4 linked regions of the Homo sapiens genome follow. The protein of the gene in region 1 purifies or fractionates together with the protein of each later gene. This does not show direct contact. Each region holds a gene or a part of one and is shown in the gene's direction. Other genes may lie near its edges.

The links. The genes of interacting proteins can lie anywhere in the genome.
Region 2: the proteins of MARCHF5 (region 1) and VDAC2 purify together in Homo sapiens (affinity purification with mass spectrometry, with the first as the bait; one study listed by BioGRID). This does not show direct contact.
Region 3: the proteins of MARCHF5 (region 1) and SLC25A46 purify together in Homo sapiens (affinity purification with mass spectrometry; 2 studies listed by BioGRID). This does not show direct contact.
Region 4: the proteins of MARCHF5 (region 1) and DNM1L purify together in Homo sapiens (affinity purification with western blotting, with the first as the bait; 3 studies listed by BioGRID). This does not show direct contact.

Annotation. Positions count from the first base shown.
Region 1 is NC_000010.11:92,307,541-92,312,575, forward strand, and holds part of MARCHF5 (E3 ubiquitin-protein ligase MARCHF5), read left to right. Parts: intron 1-3,594; coding exon 3,595-3,797; intron 3,798-5,035. UniProt on the Homo sapiens protein: Mitochondrial E3 ubiquitin-protein ligase that plays a crucial role in the control of mitochondrial morphology by acting as a positive regulator of mitochondrial fission and as an important regulator of immune response.
Region 2 is NC_000010.11:75,223,675-75,228,709, forward strand, and holds part of VDAC2 (non-selective voltage-gated ion channel VDAC2), read left to right. Parts: intron 1-5,035. UniProt on the Homo sapiens protein: Non-selective voltage-gated ion channel that mediates the transport of anions and cations through the mitochondrion outer membrane and plasma membrane.
Region 3 is NC_000005.10:110,744,886-110,749,920, forward strand, and holds part of SLC25A46 (mitochondrial outer membrane protein SLC25A46), read left to right. Parts: intron 1-1,383; coding exon 1,384-1,461; intron 1,462-3,277; coding exon 3,278-3,378; intron 3,379-5,035. UniProt on the Homo sapiens protein: Transmembrane protein of the mitochondrial outer membrane that controls mitochondrial organization.
Region 4 is NC_000012.12:32,685,180-32,690,214, forward strand, and holds part of DNM1L (dynamin-1-like protein), read left to right. Parts: intron 1-5,035. UniProt on the Homo sapiens protein: Functions in mitochondrial and peroxisomal division.

The DNA of each region.
Region 1 (5,035 bases):
CATAAGGAGATCCTGTCTCTAAAAAAAAAATTTTTTTTTAATTAGCTGTGTGTGGCCAGGCGCAGTGGGTCATGCCTGTAATCCCAGCATTTGGGAGCCTGAGGTGGGCAGATCACTTGAGGTAAGGAGTTCAAGACCAGCCTAGCCAGCATGGTGAAACCCTATCTCTACTAAAAATACAAAAACTAGCTGGGCATGGTGGCGGGCACCCTGTAATCCTACTACTTGGGAGGCGGAGGCATGAGAATCGCTTGAACCGGGAGGCGGAGGTTGCAGTGAGCCGAGACCACCACTGCACTCCAGCCTGGGCAACAGAGCAAGACTTTGGGCTGCTGGTTGCCCATTTTTATGGTTATTTCTTGATGATATGCTAAACAAGGAGAGGATTATTTATGCTTCCCCCCTTTTTTTTTTTTTTGAGATGGAGTCTCACTCTGTCACCCAGGCTGGAGTGCAGTGGCACGATCTCAGCTTACTGCAAGCTCTGCCTCCTGGGTTCACACCATTCTCCTGCCTCAGCCTCCCGAGTAGCTGGGACTACAGGCACCTGCCACCACGCCTGGCTAATTTTTTTGTATTTTTAGTAGAGACGGAGTTTCACCATATTAGCCAGGATGGTCTCGATCTCCTGACCTCATAATCCGCCCTCCTCAGCCTCCCAAAGTGCTGGGATTATAGGCATGAGCCACCGCGCCCAGCCTATGCTTCCCCTTTCTAGATCATATAGGGTAACTTCGTGACGTTGCCGTGGCATTTGTAAACTGTCATGGTGCTGGTGGGAGTGTAGCAGTGAGGACGACCAGGGGTCACTCGTGAGCATCTTGGTTATGGTGGGTTTTAGCTGGCTTTACTGCAACCTGTTTTATCAGCAGTATCTTTATGACCTGTATTTTGTGCTGACCTCATATATCATCTTGTGACTTAGAATGCCTTAACCATCTGGGAATGCAGCCCAGTAGGTTTCAGCCTCATTTTACCCAGCTCCTATTCAATCAAGACGGAGTTGCTCTGGTTCACATGCCTCTAATACTGCTATTTCAACTGAAAGCCTAACTCCTGATAAGTACGCACTCTGAATCATCATTCAGCTATCTTATTTACCATAGTTGTGAAATTAATTAGAAAAAAAACTGAAAGTGCATAAGTGCGTGCGTTGTTTGTTTTTTGTTTTTTTTTTTTTTTGAGACGGAGTCTTGCTCTGTTGCCCAGGCTGGAGTGCAGTGGCGCGATCTTGGCTCACTGCAAGCTCCGCCTCCCGGGTTCACGCCATTCTCCTGTCTCAGCCTCCTGAGTAGCTGGGACTGCAGACACCCGCCACCATGCCCAACTAATTTTTTTGTATTTTTAGTAGAGACAGGGTTTCACCGTGTTAGCCAGGATGGTCTCAATCTCCTGACCTTGTGATCCGCCCGCTTCAGCCTCCCAAAGTGCTGGGATTACAGGCTTAAGCCACGGCACCCGGCCAAGTGCATGCTTTAAATGTCAGTTCTAAAAAGTAAATCTGTACAAGTATTTAGGACTGAAATATACTGATGCCTGCAACTTTGAAATGCAGCAAAAAATAAGAATAATGAATGGATGTGTGAGAAAGCAAATATAGCAGAATAAGAATTATAGAATCTAAATGTTGGGTATATGGGTAGTCACTGAACAGTTTTTAACTTTTTTTGGAAAGTTTGAAATTTTTCATAATAAAATGTTTGGGAAAAATAAACCTTATCTAGAATTTATAAGGAATATAATAGCTACACAAGTATTCTCATTAGATCAAAATATGAAATTTGACCTATCTTTTCTGTAAGTCAGAAACAGATTAATGTAGACTATTTCAGTTGGTTCAACCTAGTCCTAACATTGTATTTTATTTTTCTGATGACTGAAATTGGATTAATTTAAAATGTGATTCACCATAATACTGATTAATTATGCTGATGTAGCTATTCTTATTTACGTTTGTGTTAAGAAAGTATGAGACTAAAGAGTCTCTAAATATTCTGCCAGTATTTTGTTGCTAAAATGATACATTCCATTTCCTAGATGTATACAAATATGTCCACAAAATTACCTCAGTTGTGGGGAAAAATATATACTAACAACATCTTAACCAGCCTGTGTGCTAGTATACTTACCAATTGAAATTTTATGCAAAAATCATAGGTTAGAACCCAGTCCTACTATGGGTAGTCTTGGTGGTTGCACAACAGTATGAATATACTTACTGCCACTGAATTATACACCTAAAAAATGGCTAAAATGGTAGATTTTATGCTATGTCTATTTGACGATAAAATTTTTTAAAAAAGAACAAAGTATTTTTGGACAACCATAAGACAATGTGAAGGCCCAGACAGCTTAGCTAAAGTGGGTCAAAAGGGTCAGAATGCTAAACAAATGCTACCTACGTTCTAATTTTACTTAGATCTTATGAAACCTGACTGAATTTGAAAGCTGAATAAAACAACTATTTTGGATATTGATGCCCTGGATTCAGTTCAACTTTTTTTCTGTTCTAATTGAAAAATTGTAATTGGAGCACACAATTGAAATTCATGTTGTTCCACAAGGACTGGAGAACCTCACCCATCTATAATACCTGAGTATATAGTCTTTCCCACTGAGCATAGTTAAGCTAGTTGTTCTGACAGAAGCCACTTATCCAATTAATTAAAAAGTGCACAGTAGGTAACATGCTTTAATTAGCAGTTGTTTCCACTTGTACAAGTTCTAATGGAGGGGAGGAGCGAAGGGTCTCATTGAATTGAACTGTATTTGCCCTGATGGAAATCGATGTCAAAACTTGTGTTAATTGGGAGAAAAACTGAGGAATTACAACCTAATTCCACAAGAAAAAATTACAATTCATGAAGTACCCTTAAAAGCAAAGTGGGAAAATGTTTTAAAATTACCGATCTCAATAGAATTTTATTTTTATTAATATAAGCACCCCAGACTTGATACTTCTAGATTTCAGATTTCAAGCATACACGCCCAAATTTATCATATTGCTATTCTAAAAAAAAAAATCTTGATATATTTATCTCCTTTGTGCTTTTTTGAAAATGTAATATTGTTTTCTCTCATGTTTATACTTTACCGGAAAGAAAAATGGGTTTTTTTTTCCTCAGCTGAAAAATGGAATGAGACTGTATGTGAAATCACTCGTGTAATACTTTGTTTTTCCAAGTTCAAGGGATTGGTGGTGGTGAACTGGGGAGAACACTGAATTTAATATATTACTGTGCTTACTATTCCTCAAAGAATTATTAGGTCTTATAACAAAAACAACTTGAGGTTTGTCTCCTTGCACTCTGGTTCATTAGAGAAGGTGAAGAATTACTGAAAAGATAGAGGAGATTACATAAAAACAAAGTTCAGAAAACATAAGTTCTGTAGAGGAAGACAAGGAAAAACAGAAAAAGTAGAAACTGCTCTAGTGGGAATGTATTGGTTGTTTTGTCTCCTTAGTCTTTTAATATAGGACAGAGATTCTGTAATATAACATAGCAGGCTCATCCCATTAAGTAAGAGCTGCAGTATAGAGGAGGCTGGAGTCCTAAAGATATAAATGTCATCCTTTTCTCTTTTAATTTACAGAAGTTGCTGGGTTTGTTTTGCTACTGATGAAGATGATAGAACAGCTGAATGGGTGAGACCATGCAGGTGCAGAGGATCTACAAAATGGGTTCACCAGGCCTGTCTACAACGCTGGGTGGATGAAAAGCAAAGAGGAAACAGTACAGCCAGAGTGGCATGTCCTCAGTGCAATGCTGAATACCTAATAGTTTTTCCAAAATTGGGTAAGAATATCTTTAAAAACAACACAGATATAGTTGATGTTATTATATATAACTTTATAAGTTCATTTTAAAATGAACCACCTCTTTTTTTTAGGGTGTGAATTTCTATATTCCCTTTCTCTTGTTTCCTCTCTGAATGTCAGACATTTATTTCTTTTGCTAACAGTTTACAGTATCCTTAATATATCCCCAAATTTATCCATTTGCCTGTGTATTAACTGTCTGTTTGATAGAAAGGAGAAAGAACTTGCATACCTGTGTGGATATAATTGAATAACAAAGCTCTAATAAAAAGCTGACTTTTAAAAAAAAAACTAACTTAGCTTAATTATCTGGAGACGGTGTAAGAGAAAGAAAGCAGTAGTATGTTCTAATACTTCTCCTTAATTCTTCCTTTTAAGGAATAAAAGTAGAGAAATTAAATATTTAATAAGATGTGACGTTAAACTCATCTTTGGAATCCAATTTATGTGGTTTCTTTCATGAACCCTGCTATCCCTTTTCTGTGAAGTGGCAGGTAAGAAATAACCAAAGATCTTTGAGAACAGGCCTAGCATGGAAAAAAAGTATAGCAGACTGCTTACAAGAAGCATTCTAAGGCTGCTTCTTTAGCAGCAGTATAACTAAGGCTGATATTTAGTGAGCCTGTTCCATTACAGCCATACAGTTATAAATTGGTGTCAATCTCTTGGTTTGGTGTTTATACCATGCCAGTTGTTAAACATTTTTTTATAACCCTTGACTGTAACCAAGAGGTATAGGAAGGCAGCTTGGGTTCTGGGAAGGTCATAAGGAAAGAATGTCTTTGGGGGCAGAGGGAATTCAGGAAAAATTGGAAATAATTATTATATATATTGTTTTTTATAAGTGCTATTCATACTGAAATCAGACCAATGTTTTTGAAAATGTGGCAACATAAATGCAGATAATGAAGTGCTTTTCTAATATGAGAAGATTAATAATAAGGGCAAACAAAATGTCCTTGGTTCTCTGTTTTTCTCTAACATGCACAGGAAGAAATGATAGCTTCCTTTGAAGGGGAAGTAGTGTAGTAGAGAAAGTAGTGTTTTCAAACATTTGGAATTTGTGGACCATGTGATGGGTCTTCAGTGCATACCACTGATTTTAGATAAACACAAAAGAATAATTCAAAATGTTTTTATTGTAAGATCAAAGAAGTATTTTTAAATCAGTATCAGGAAAAGCAATGATTGTTCACATTATTGTACCACCACATG
Region 2 (5,035 bases), about 17 Mb from region 1:
TTGTATGCTAATGAGTTTTGACTGGTGGCTGGCCACCTTTAGGTAGCTTCGGGCTGGAGGCTAGTCAGTGGAGAGACCAAGGTGTGATTAGAGGGGGTGGGGAGAGGGGCTGTAGGTTTAATTGTTCACCAATGGCTAGTGGTTTAATCAGTCATGCCTGTATAATGAAGCCTCATGAAAACCCACAAGGACAGAGGTCAGTGAGCTAGGTAGCTGAGGTTACTGGAAGGTGGCATGTCTGGAGAGGGCATTGAAGCTGTGTCCCTTCCTATGTTTTGCACTGTACATCTCTTCATCTGTATCCTTTGTAATATCCTTTATTAAAACTGGTAAATGTAAATAAAGTGTTTCTTGAGTTCTGTGACCTGCTCTAGGAGATTAATTGAACCCAAGAAGGGGCTTGTGGGAACCTCTGTTTAGAGGTGCCAGGTCAGAAGCAGAGTTAAAACAACCTGGGGCTTGCAGTTGGCATCTGAAGTGGGAGGAGGGCAGTCTTGTGGGACTAAGCCCTTAACCTGTGGCATCTGATGTCTCCAGGTAGAATTAGAGGACATTTAGCCAGTGTCTGCTGCAGAAATTATTGCTTGCTTGGTGTGTGAGGAAAGCCCTCACACATGTGGTCACAGAAGCATTCTGTGTTGTGAGAGAATAGTAGGAGAAACTGAGTTGGTTTTTTTCTGTATCCTCAGAATTGATGTCAGGATTGGGATTTGCTAGAGTGGCTCTAGCTAGAGTGGCTCATCGAAGCATGGTTTAGGAAGAAAAAGGATAAATGGATGGGAAATGAGGAACTTTTGACTCCTGGGTGGTCAGATGGTCACCCCTGCTATGGAGCCACAACTGTGCTGTGCTCAGGTACTTAAAAATTACCAGTGGAATTCAAAGATAGATCCAACTCCAAGGGAGTTGGTTCACTGGGTGCATAAGGAAACGCAAACAATAAGAAACAAACAAAATATACAATCCCTTGATTATTGTTATTTGTGATAGCTAAAATCAAAGTGAAAGAGTGCTGGATTGTACCTTGATGCTAGACCAAGCTCAGGTTTCATTTGGTTTAAGCCTTGGCCACCAGCCTCAAAGCCACCTTGCAAGGGTAAAAAGTACCCCTAAGACCTGTATTTGCTGTATTTTGCCCAGTTTGGAGAAATTTAAAAAGTCAGAAGTTAGAGATTACATTGAGAAATGTGATCTGAAATTGCCTGGGGCAGTAGTCAGGCTTATTAATCAAGATAAAGGCTGACAAATGGGGAAGGGTAGATTTCTGTTGGAAAGGCAAAGCAAATATCTCTAATTCTTACTGATCTGTAACGAAACTGATTTTTTTTGTACCATGCTCATACTGCCATATGGTAATATTGTTGGCAGATTAAACTCCCTTGTGTAAATAAGTCTTATAATACTGATTGATGATTATATGTATTGTGAAATTGAGTTGAAGCCTCCTCAGGATATAATACCTATGGAAAGTGACTGGCCTGAGGAGGAACTGGATCTCACTATCAGCTGATTTCCATCCTGAATAGTTCTGCACAAGGTACAAATAACAGTAGATCAAGGGAAAAGAAAGCTGGTACAAGATGATAAAGATGTTTCTAATGGCTTCTGTCAACCTAAAGGAAGAAACTAAGGCACAAAATACAATTTTAAAGAATTTATTTGCACCATAATGAGGACAGCTGCCCAGCAGACTCAGATCCAAGTGGATTTGAGCTCCATTTGGCCCTTGTTACAAACAGGTTTTTAAAGGCCAAAAATTCGGGACAGGATGTGGGCTGATACAAAGTTGTTTGGCAGGAATTCTCTTTGGTTTACAGAAATAACATTGATTAGTGATTGGCTATACATTGTTCTTTGTATCACAGATTCCAGGAACATGAAGATAATGGGTGAGGGTCACATTGTGCAGTAACACTTTAGATATTTGCCAGCGAGCCTGGAAACTACAAGGAAGGAAAAAAAGAACAAAGTGTTTTTAAACAATTTCCCCTAGGCATGGGGGTGTGTCCTGTGACTAAAGTCTCATTCTCATGTCTCTCTGGGCCTGATAAACTTTGCATACCTCACATTCCTCATACTGCTGAGCTATTTTTTTTTCTCTTCATAGGACCGAGTAGGTTTTTTTTGTTTTGTTTTGTTTTGTTTTGAGACGGAGTCATCCAGGCTGGAGTGCAGTGGCGTGATCTCGGCTCACTGCAACCTCCACCTCCTGGGTTCAAGCCATTCTTGTGCCTCAGTCTCCTGAGTAGCTGGGATTATAGGTGCCCACTACCACACTCGGCTAATTTTTGTATTTTTAGTAGAGATGAGGTTTCGCCGTGTTGGCCAGGCTGGTCTCAAACTCCTGACCTCTGGTAATCCGCCCGCCTCAGCCTCCCAAAGTGCTGAGATTACAGGTGTGAGCCACTGCGCCCATCCTAGTTGCTTCTTTAAACCTATCCCTATCCCACAGTAGCTTCTCCAGATGATAGGCATATTTGTGTTTGTACTCTTGTAGATATGTCTGTTATATAAATGCAACAAGTGTAAACATCCTTGACAGATATATGGACCTTTTTGCTGTAAGGGATCCCTGTTTGAAACCAGGGGGTGGCCTATGATACTATGGTGTATATATTTTGGTTTTTGTCAAGTTCCTGGCTCACAGCTTCTATAACCCTTGCAATTTCCCAAGTGACTAGAGCCGTAAGAGTGTATTTTGTTGAGATATTTGGCCATTTGTCCTCGGTTCCTGAAACAGCTCCAGAGCATAAAAGTGAAAGACAGTCTTTTGTGGGTTTTTTTTTTTTTTTTTTTTTTTAATGAAATCTCACTGTCATCCAGGCTGGATGGAGTACAGTGGCACCATCTCTGCTCACTGCAACCTCAACCTCCGCCTCTCGGGTTCAAGCAGTTCTCGTGCCTCAGCCTACTTAGTAGCTGGGTTTGGAGGTGCCTGCCACCAAGCCCGACTAATTTTTGTATTTTTAGTAGAAATGAGGTTTCACCGTGTTGGCCAGGTGGGTCTCCAACCCCTGACCTCAGGTGATCCACTTGCCTTGGCTCCCAAAGTGCCGGGGTAACAGGAACGAGCCACTGCGCCCTGGGCTATGTTGTTATTTTTAACAGGCCTCTTTCAACCACATCTGAACTTATGTTAATGAGGTGATTTTTGGATAGTCCCTAGATGGCCACATGGTAGGGGGTGCTGGTTGCTAGGGAACAAACCTTCTGCCTTGGGGAGGGCATAGTAGCTAAAGGTTGAGCCAGTGGCCAGTGATTTAATTAATCGTGCCTTTGTAATGAAGTCTCCTTTGTAATGAAGTCTCTGTAAAAACCCAAAGGACTGAGTCCAGGGGGCCTTCAGGAAGGTAAACAATAATACATTCATGTCATGGGAGGGTGGGGCACCCCAGCTCCACAGGGATGGAAGCTCCTGTGCTTGGGACCCTTCAAGACCTCACCTATAAAGGAAAAGATATATAAGTATCTTTTCATCTGGCTGTTCATTTATATCCTTTAAAATATCCTATATAACTGGTAAATGTGTTAGTCCCTGAGTTCTGTGTGCCACCCTAGGAAATTACTTGAACCCCAGGGGGTTGTGGGAACCCCAGTTTATAACCAGTCTGTAAGAAGCAGAGGCAAAAGAACCTGGAGCTTTCAGTTAGCATTGAAAATGAGGGCGGGGCAGTTTTATGAAACTGAGCCCTGAACCTGTGTGATCCGATGCTCTCTCTCCAGGTAGATAGTATCAGAATTGAATTAGAGAACATCTAGCTGGAGTCTGCTGCAGAATCGTTTGCTTGATGTGTGGGAAATTCTCCCTAGGCCTTATGAGAGTATAGAGGGAGAAACTGAGTTTATTTTTTCTACTCCTTATCACAGTTTCATGGTTTAACTCTTACTGTTAAATAATAGGAATTTTTTTTTTTTTTTTTTTTTGGAGACAGAGTCTCACTTTGTTACCCTGGCTGGAGTGCAGTGGTGCGATCTCTGCTCTGCTCACTGCAACCTCTGCCACCCGGATTCAAGTGATTCTCCTGCCTTAGCACCCCGAGTAGCTGGGATTACAGGCGCCTGCCACCGTGCCTGGCTAATTTTTGTAGTTTTAGTAGAGACGGGGTTTCACCATCTTGGCCAGGCTGGTCTTGAACTCCTGACCTTGTGATCCTCCCAAAGTGCTGGGATTACAGGCATGAGCCACCCAGCCCGGCCAATAATGGGAATTTCTTTCTTTCTTTCTTTTTTTTTTTTTTGAGGCGGAGTCTCGCTCAGTAGCCCAGGCTGGAGTGCAGTGGCAAGATCTCCACTCACTGCAACCTCCGCCTCCCGGGTTCACGCCTTTCTCCTGCCTTAGCCTCCCGAGTAGCTGGGACTATAGGTGCCCACCACCACGCCCGGCTAATTTTTTGTATTTTTAGTAGAGACGGGGTTTCACCGTGTTAGCCAGGATGGTCTCGATTTCCTGACCTTGTGGTCCGCCTGCCTCGGCCTCCCAAAGTGCTGGGATTACAGGCGTGAGCCACTGCGCCTGGCCAATAATAGGAATGTCTATCCAGCTGTCTGAGGCTCTTATTTGTAGGGTACAAGATGGTCATTAGTGAGGTATTTTTCTTTCTTTTTTTTTTTTTGAGCTTTGTTGCCTAGGCTGTAGTTCACTGGTGCAATCACAGCTCACTGTGCCCTCAGCCACCTGGGCTTGAGATCCTTCCACTCACCCCCCACTTCCCTGGTAGTTGGGTAGGTGTGCACCATCATACCAAGCTAGGAAAATTTTGTACAGACAGACAGGGGTCTCACCGTGTTGCCCAGGCTGTTGAATTCCTGGGCTCAAGTGGTCCTCCCGCCTTGGCCTCCCAAAGTGCAGGGATTACTGGTGTCAGCCACTGCGCCAGGCCTGTTTTTTTCTTTAGATGGTCATTGGTAGCTCATGAATATTTGGCTGTAGTGCCAAGTGAATACAGGTGTTTTGGATGTGGTTTGTGTCTGTATAGTTACATCATTTCTTTCTCTGGATTGGGCTCTTTGGATGTTACACATTATAAGAGTATAG
Region 3 (5,035 bases), on another chromosome or scaffold:
GATATTAATTAGAAAGAGGATGTGTACTCAAAGGTCAAGGATTCATAAAATTAACATTTTGTTACTTCATTGTCAAGGATATTACTATATGAAGGTTGCTTTTTTCTCTCTATGGGTAAATGAGGTGAAAAATTACTGTAAGTACGAAAATACAGTTTGATGGTGCTGCCTCAATTTGTGCTAATGAGCTGGGAGTTTTACCTACCATTGCTTTTGTACCATTAGTGAAAATGTCAAGACAGTGAAAAAAGGAAATTATATCTTAGTAATCACTAGGAAAATAATTTTGAACTTGTCAAGCCCCTGAAAGGGTAATGGGGCCCTCAGGAGTCAGTGGACCCCACTTGCAAACTCTGTTATAACCCACTTTTTTTTTTTGTTTGTTTGAGACGGAGTCTCGCTCTGTTGCCCAAACTGGAGTGCAGTGGCATGATCTCGGCTCACTGCAAACTCCGCCTCCTGGGTTCACGCCATTCTCCTGCCTCAGCCTCCCGAGTAGCTGGGACTACAGGAGCCCGCCACCGTGCCCAGCTAATTTTTTGTATTTTTAGTAGAGACGGGGTTTCATCGTGTTAGCCAGGATGGTCTCGATCTCCTGACCTCATGATCCGCCCGCCTCAGCCTCCCAAAGTGGTGGGATTACAGGTGTGAGCCACTGCGCCCGTCCTGTTATAACCCACTTTCTCTGTAAAGTAATGCTTCCTGTATTTGTTAGCTGTTAGAGTTCAAAACAGTATAAATCATTATAAATTAATCTGTTCATGCTTAGCACTGAAAAGTATGTATACAGAAATACCATTAAAGTAGCATTGACTGTATGTGCCACAGAACAGTGTATTTCAGATATATATTTTACATTGTAGTAATATTAACATGGAGATCCAATGGATACATTACATATAAGTAACAAATATATTATTTTTAAATGTTTTATGAAATAATACCATTAGAATGTAATACATTCTAATATTTTATTGTTTCACATAATAAATATTGTTTTGACACTCCCCCAGTTGATTTCATATACCAGTCAGTTGCCAAGTACAGTTTGAAAAATGCTTGCCTAAAATGAACATGAGTTGGGAGATGTAATTCAGTTGTTTAAGGCAAACCAAATATCAAATAAGACCCTCTTTATTATATAGTCTACAGTACTGTGTGTATTATGCATTGGTCTTCAGATTGTATTTATATAACCATACATACTGTACTTTTAATAGGTTATTTAAAGCACTTTTAAGAGTAATTTTGCTTATGTGTAATTTATGTTGACTTTGGAATTAACTTTTGTTTATACTGCAATTCCACCATATTTCTTTCATGGCTCTGTTATTTCTTGACAAAACATTAACAGAAAAAAATAATGAAATATCTTTTTTACAGGTTAATTACCATGCTCAGCATTACCATCTCACTCCATTTACAGTCATCAATATTATGTACAGTTTCAACAAAACTCAGGTGAGAATTTTGTCTGGATTCTATTAAAGGTTTATATAAGTGTCATTTGGGTTTAGTAATCATTAAAGCAAGAATAATTACTTTCAGTTTGGTCAATAAAACATCTTAACTGTTGTAGTAAAACTAAAGTAGCACAACGATATGTTTTTGAATCTTTCAAAATGTAATTTAGCAAAAGTACAATTTAATTTAGCAAAACCACAAAGAGCTGTGCTAAGATGATGTCTCTGCTATCAAGAGGCTCATATTTATTCATGGAGACAAAATCTTTGAAGATTGTGCTGCAGTAAGATAAAGGCAATATTAGAAGTACAGAATGCTGTCAGAATACAAAAGAGAAGTACCTTATCAAAACTGGGCTTGGGCACAGTGTATGGCTGGGAAAAACTTTGGGAAAAGAAAGGCCCGAATTGTGTGCTTCTTGTTGAGAAGTCTGACTCTTCATGATGAGGATAGAGAAAAGGTTTTTAAAGTAGACGTGTGAAGGCAGAAGACAAAGAGAGATCATAATGTTTGGGAATGGATTTAATGGAGTACAATGGGAGCTTGAAGTGGGGGTTGAAGAGTAAGAGAAAGATGAAAAAGTAGCCAGAGAAGTAAGCAGGATCCAGATTCTAAAGCACCTTCTAAGAACTGCACACTACTAGATCTTAAAAGCTACAAGAGTACTGTTGAAGGTGTTTTAGCCATGACCAAAATATCTTGAAGACCTTTGGATTGTTTGGCAATATCTATTAAAATTTAAAATGTACATGTTCTTTCACTTCCAGGAACTTATCCCACATAGATGTGCACATATATATGCAAAAATATATATACAAGGATGTCCTATGACATTGCATATAATAGACTGGAAATGATTAAATGTCCATCACTAGGGTACCAGTGAAATAATTATGGTATATTATGGTGAAACACCTTGTAACCTTTAAAAATAAGAGGGTAGCTCTGTGTATACTAATGTGGAATGATCTCCAGGATATTTTTTATGTTTCAAGATAATACTACCTGTTAAAAATAAGCAAAACAAAAATATTTCTATAACATACACACACAGATATACTTGTATATGCATGGATTATCCCGATAAATTTTAAAACTGCTGCTGAGGACTGGGATGAAAAGGAGACAGACTTTTCAGCTGATACCCTATTGCTTCTTTTTAATTCTATCATGTATATCTATTAATAATATAGATAATATAGATAAATAATAGGAGTATTACTGATGGTATCATGCAAAGGGGCAAAACCAGAGACAGTGAAACTTGTAGTCAAATTGATATAAAGTAATAGTGTTAAGTATGGAGAAGAGCATGGATTTGTAAGATACTAAGGGAGTAGAATTTGTAGAACCTGGGGACTGATTAGATAGGAAGAGTGAGATAAAAATGTTTTCTAGATATATTGTTTGGACACTAGGATGATGAAGCTGCTATCTAGGGAAATAGGAAATACAGCAGAGAAGGAAAGAATTGGTGTGGTATGAGTGAGTATGATTGGGTTAAGTTGTGGATATGTAAGTTTCAAGTTACCTTGTGTCATCCACAGGACAGGACTAGTAGGGAGTTGAATATATAGATATTAGGGATATTTAATAAATTAGTTAATCATTAGGGGTTTTAATTAATAGGAATGTTCTTCTTGGCCTAAGTATAACTTTAAAATGATATAAAATTAATTGTAGTTCTCTACTAATATTTCTATTAGAATAATGTTTTATTGGAAAATGTCTACACAATATCAAGTTTTATTAAGATCTTTTGTGTTTCAGATGTAGGTATTAACAGAAATAACATGAATTTTGTTCAATTTAGGGACCTAGAGCCCTGTGGAAAGGAATGGGAAGTACATTTATTGTCCAGGGAGTCACACTTGGAGCAGAAGGCATAATTAGTGAATTTACACCTTTGCCAAGGTACCATTTTTAGCATTTCTTCAGTATTAGTTTCATGTGGTGATGTGTTTTTAGATGCAGGCGGTACATGTGCAGGCTTGTTACATGGGTATATTGTGTGATGCTAAAGTTTGGACTTCTAATGATCCTCTCATCCAACAATTCTCAATTGTGTAAACATCATACCCAATAGGTAGCTTTCAACCCTTGTCCCCATCCCTCCCCTATTATATTGTTTTAATAATAAATAAAAAATACCTTGAATCTGAAAACTTGTCTGAAGTAACTAAAAGAAAAAACAAAGAATAAAATTAATTATATATTATTAAATTAGTATGTGATAAAGAAAATGTGTCTTGGCTTAGTATCTATTGAGATGTATCTTTCAGCTTCTACTGCTATGTGCCAGCAACTGCCAGCTGAGGAACAAATGTGGGTATGTGAGCAATTCCCGCTCTTTAAGTATTCATTTAATGAAGGAGACACATGTAAGCAAGAAGAGGTAACATGTCCAATGTCACGGGGTTGGACAGTCTAGGTAATAAAAGAAGTGTCTTATGTTTGGAATATTGGGTATGTATGAAATTGAATATCAGGAAAAGAAGCTGAGGTGCTACATTAAAATACGATTGTGCCTTTTTAAGTTTATTCTCTATGGGTTTGGAATGTGTTTCTTTTTTTAATATATAGATGTTCTGATCAAGATATATTCAAATGGCAGTATAAAATAAATGGAGTTGTATAGACAGATTTATGGAGATCTATTGTAATAATCTAGGCGAGGCTGAGAAGGTTCTGAACTGTGGAACAGAACAGAAAGGGATGAGCTGGCTAGACATTTCTGAAGTATAGTCGATGGTCATTATGTTAGCTTGGTAATTGGAGATAGGAGAGAATGAGTTGTCAGTAGTGACTGAGATTTCTAGATTGGAAAATGTTAACCAAGATGGAGAATTCAAGAAGAAGAAAAAGTTGGAGTAGGGAAGAAGATAAAGAATTTATCTTTCAATAAATGAAGTTTGAGATTCTTGCAAGACATTGAGGGAGAGGGACATGTCTCATATTTGGTTGGAACCATGGATCAGAGTAAAAAAAAAAAAATAGAAAATTGAAGCACAGGGAGAGCTTTGGGTATTGTGGCATAAAAGTAGCAGCTGAAGCTTAGGATAGATGAAATCACCTAAGGAGAAAGCATAGATTAAATGAATAAAATGGACCAAGGACAGAATCCTAGGCATACATGTGTGCCGTGTGTGTGTGGGAGCGGTGGGAAGGGGGGTAGTTGGGGGAGATAATGAGAGAAATTAGAGAGGGCCTCAGACAAATTGGAAATAGCATAAGATGTAGGACAATCATGTTCTAGAAACCAAAAATGGGAGAATTAGAAGTGTAGATACATTTGAGAGAGAGGGTAGAGAAATTAGGGAAATTTGCTTTTGGGTCTCTCTTTTCTCTGTGAAGCAGGATACAGGGTTATTTGGTGAAAAAATGATAAGCATTGGGGTTGTAGTAGAAAAGCATGAGAGGAATGATACACATTTGGGACAGTCACAATGATGGGTAACAAAGGAATCTTACAAAGAGTATATGAAAGGAATGTTAATAGGTAATATTGGAAATTAGAAATTTTTAAGGTGCTATTTGGCATTACTCTGATTTTCTATATCAGCACTATATT
Region 4 (5,035 bases), on another chromosome or scaffold:
ACCCGCCTCGGCCTCCCAAAGTGCTGGGATTACAGGCGTGAGCCACCGCGCCCGGTCAGTGAATGTGTATTTTTGATTCTCTTGGGTATATATCTAAGCGTAGACTTGCTGATTCATATGATAATTCTTACGTTTAACTTTCTGAAAAACTACCAAAGTGTTTTCCATAGTGGCTGCACCTTTTTTTTTTTTTTTTTTTGAGACAGGGTCTCACTTTCTCGCCCAGACTGGAGTGCTGTGGCGCTATCTTGGCTTACCGCAACCTCTGCCTCCCAGGCTCAAGGCGTTCTCCTGCTTCAGCATCCTGAGTAGCTGGGATTACAGGTGCCCGCCACTACTGCCCGGCTACTTTTTGTATTTTTAGTAGAGGCGAGGGTTTCCTTATATTGGTCAGGCTGGTCTCGAACTCCTGACCTCAAATGATCCACCCACCTCGGCCTCCCAAAGTGCTGGGATTACAGGCGTGAGCTGCTGCGCCCAGCCGTGGCTGCACCATTTCACATCCCCTCCAGGGTTCAGGTTTCTGCACATCCTTATCAACACTTGTTGTTATCTTTTTTTTTTAAGCGCTAAATCATTCTGGAATTCTTTATTTGAAAAACAGCACTTTTTGACACCTATGCCATTTCCTTCTCTTATGGACAACTTTTTTCATAGTTTGATGTCCCTCTCTCTTTTTTTTCTCCATGAGCACTGCTGTCTACATTTTAGCATTTATTGACTATAATTTAATTCCTGCTTATGCATTGTTTTCTTGTGTTCTTAGATAAATTTATGTTTTTCTCTTTTTTTGTATAGATTATGAGCTGCTGCTTTTTTTTAACTTAACAAAATTGAGGTGAAATTTGCAGAACATAAAATTAGCCTTTTTTTTTTTTTTTTTTTTTTGAGATGGAGTTTTGCTCTTGTTGCCCAGGCTGGAGTGCAATGGCGCGATCTCGGCTCACAGCAACCTCCACCTCCCGGGTTCAAGTGATTCTCCTGCCTCAGCCTCTCAAGTAGCTGGGATTACAAGCATGTGCCATGCCTGGCTAATTTTGTATTTTTAGTAGAGACAGGGTTTCTCCATGTTGGTCAGGCTAGTCTCAAACTCATGACCTCAGGTGATCCGTCCACCTCGACCTCCCAAAGTGCTGGGATTACAGGTGTGAGCCACTGTGCCCAGCCAAAATTAGCCCTTTTATAAAATGTATAATTCAGTGTCATTTAGTGCATTCATAATGACATCTCTGTCTAGGTCCAAAACAATTTCATCACGAAAGAAAACTACTATTGAGCTGTCACTCCCTCTTCTTTCTTTTCCATTTAATGGCTGAGTAATATTCTGTTATATGTATAAACCACATTGGTTTATTCAATCACCTATTGATGAGCAATTGGGTTGTTTCTGCCTTTTAGCTGTTGTGAATAGTGCTGCTGTGAATATTGGTGTACAAGTATTTGAGTACCTGTTATCAGTTATTTTGGTATATACCTAGGAGTAAAATTACTGGGTTCTATGGTAATTTTGTTTAACTTTTTGAGCAACCACTTTTCCACAGCAGCTACACCATTTTAAAATTCCCACCAGCAATGTTTGAAGGGTGCAGTTTTTCTGTATCTTTGTCAACATTTGTTATTATCTGTTTTTGATTATAGTCATCCTAATGGGTGTGAAGTTTTGTTTTGCATTTCCCTAATGACTAATGGTGTTGAACATCTTTTCATGTGTTTGTTGGGGTTGTCTTATTGTTGAGGTTGTAAGAGTTCTTTTTTTTCTTTTTTTTTTTTTTTTTTTGAGATGGAGTCTCGCTCTGTTGCCCAGGTGGCCAGGCTGGTCTTGAACTCCTGACCTCAGGTGATCCGCCTGCCTTGGCCTCCCAAAGTGCTGGCATTATAGGCATGAGCCACCACACCCGGCCTTGTCTTTTTGCTTCCTTGTTAGTGTCCTTCAATACACAAAAGGTTTTACTTTTGGTTAAGGCTAATTTATCTTTTTTTTTCCTTTTATTGCTTTATGGTGTCATATCTAAGGCATTGACAAATCCAAAGCCGTGAAGATTTTTTTTTATTTTTTAATGTTTTTTCCCCTAATTATTTTATAGTTTTGGCTTGTATATTTAGGCTTTTGATCCATTTTGAGTACATCTTGGTATGGTATGAGGTAGGGGTTCATTTCATTTTTTTTGCACGTGCTTCTCCAGTTGACCTAGTACCATTTGTTGGAGAGACTGTTCTTTCCCCATTGAATAGTCTTGGCATTGTTGAAAATCAGTTGAGCAAAGATTTTGTTGTTGTTGTTGAGACAGGGTCTCACTCTGTCACCCAGGCTGGAGTGCAATGATGCAGTCTTGGGTCACTACAGCCTCCACCTCCTGAGTTCAAGCGATTCTTCTGCCTCATCCTCCCAAGTAGCTGAGACTACAGTCACCTGCCATCACGCCGGGCTATTTTTTTTGGTATTTTTTTTTAGTAGATACGGGGTTTTGCCATGTTGGCCAGGCTGGTCTTGAACTCCTGACCTCAGGTGATCCATCCACCTCGGCCTCCCAAAGTGCTGGGAATACAGGCATGAGCCACCATGCCTGGCCAGCCAAAGATTTATTATATGGGTTTATTTCTGGATTCTCAGTTCTATTCTGCTTTGATTACTGTAGCTTTGGAGTATATTTAAAATTTGAGAAGTGTAACTTTACCAGCATTGTTTTTCTTTTTCAAAATTGTTTTGGTTGTTTGGGGTCCCTTGTCATTCAATATGAATTTTATTTTATATTATTTTATTTTGAGAGGTAGTCTTACTCTGTCGCCCAGGCTGGAGTGCAGTGGCGTGATCTCGTTTCACTTGCAGCCTCTGCCTCCTGGGTTCAAGCGATCCAACCACCTCAGGCTGCAAGTAGCTGAGATTACAGGTGCCCACCACCATGCCTGGCTAATATTTGTTTTTTTAGTAGAGATGGGGTTTCACCACGTTGGCAAGATTGATCTCAAACTCCTAACCTCAGGTGATCTGCCCACCTTGGCCTCCCAAAATGCTGGGATTACAGGCGTGAGCCACTGTGTGGGCCCCGTATGAATTTTAGATTTGGCTTCTCCATTTCTGTAAACAAGACAGTTGGGATTTTGATGGGGATTGTGTTGCCTCTATAGGTTGCTTCAGGTTTTATTGGCATCTTAACCATTTTAAGTTAGAATTTTTGATGGGGAGGTTTTTTCTTTTAGCACTTTATCTTACTGCCTCTGGCTCCTATGGTTTCTTTTCTCTTTTCTTTCTTTGAAAACAAGTTTATTAAAGTAAAGGAATAAAAGAATGGCTACTCCATAGGCAGAGCTGCTGTGGCCCCTATGGTTTCTGATGAGAAGTCTGTTGTATCTGTTGTTAGTCTTACTGAGGATCCCTTGTTCATGACTCTTAGCTTCTCTCTTGCTGCTTTTAGCATTTGTCTTTGTCTTTCAACAGTTTGATTATAATTTATCTCAATGTGTGTATTTCTTTGTGTTTATCCTGCTTTGAGTTCATCGAGCTTCTTGGATGTGTAGATTCATATCACTTTTTCATGCTTTTATGGAAGAAGTGGGGATTTTCACAGACGATAATTCTGCCTTATCAGATATCTGAATCTCTCTCTTAGTGATCTAGAAAGCACTGGACCTATAGTTTTATAACCAAGAAAAAATTCCTTCCTAAGGACTGTTAGGTCTGCAGTATTTTAGAAAGTTTGGATTTTGGGTATTAAGTTCATATAAGAACACTCTTTTAAGCCAAGTGTGGTGGCCTGTGCCTGTAGTCCCTTTTACTTGGGAGACCTGGTGGCAAGGCTGCTTGAGCCCAGGAGGTTGAGGGCTGTAGTTCACTGTGATTGTGCTGTGAATAGCTGCTGCACTCCAGCCTAAGCAACATAGTGAGACCTGGTCTCTTAAGAACAAAAAACACCCCACATATTAACTACAAATTATGAAGTGGTTTAAACTTCATATTTATATTTTGTCATTAGGTAGAGGGTTTGAGCTATATGGTAGAAACATTGTAGTTTAGCTATTTTATTTTATTTTATTTTTGAGGCAGAGTTTCGCTCTCGTTGCCCAGGCTGGATTGCAATGGCGTGATCCTGGCTGACTGCAACTTCTGCCTCCTGAGTTCAAGTGATTCTACTGTCTCAGCTTCCCGAGTAGCTGGGATTACAGGCATGCGCCACCACGCCTGGCTAATTTTGTATTTTTAGTAGAGACAAGGTTTCTCCATGTTAGTCAGTCTGGTCTCAACCTCAGGTGATCTGCCCGCCTCACCCTCCCAAAGTGCTGGGATTACAGGCATGAGCCACTGGGCCCGGCGTAGTTTAGCTGTTTTAAATACCATAAGATTAACATTTCTAAGGACACTCTTAGAAATATTTTATTTAAATAAGTGAAGCAAATATATAAGGAAACCTTCTGTAAATCTAAAATTATTTCAAAATAAAAAGTAAAATATTGAGACATATATGTTTACTATATTAATATCAAAATAAAGAATTGAGAGGTCTGCCTTACACAATGAAAAATTAAAACTTAGAAGTTGAATAAGGGATCAGCTTTGGTTAATGTGGTATGAATGAACATTATTAACTCCTCAACCCCAACTGATGCTGATTATTAGGGAAGAGCTGAAAATACAACAAAACCTTTTCCATGAAAGGCCACATTTCAAAATATAAATTCAAAACACTAAAAATCCCAATACAGTGCAGTTTGGAAGAAACTAAAACTAAAAGATGACACTGAGACCAGGCACACAAATCTTTAGCTCGTAAATATAATACAGGTTATTGAATCAGCTTTGGGAGTTTGTGGAGAAAAAAATCTGAAGGCCTTGTAGTGCCAGTGGAGCCCGATTTTCAGAACAAGCTAGCTGTGATTTTTGCCACTTTAGAACTCTTGTAGCTACTCGACTTTCTGGGAAGAACCCAGACATGGGATGTTTAAATCACCAGGTGGGGGAAAAAGCACTGATAGAACCAATTGTTGAAGAAGCCAGTACCATTTATAGTAGTGAATCTAGATGAGAGGTAAAACATTGGGA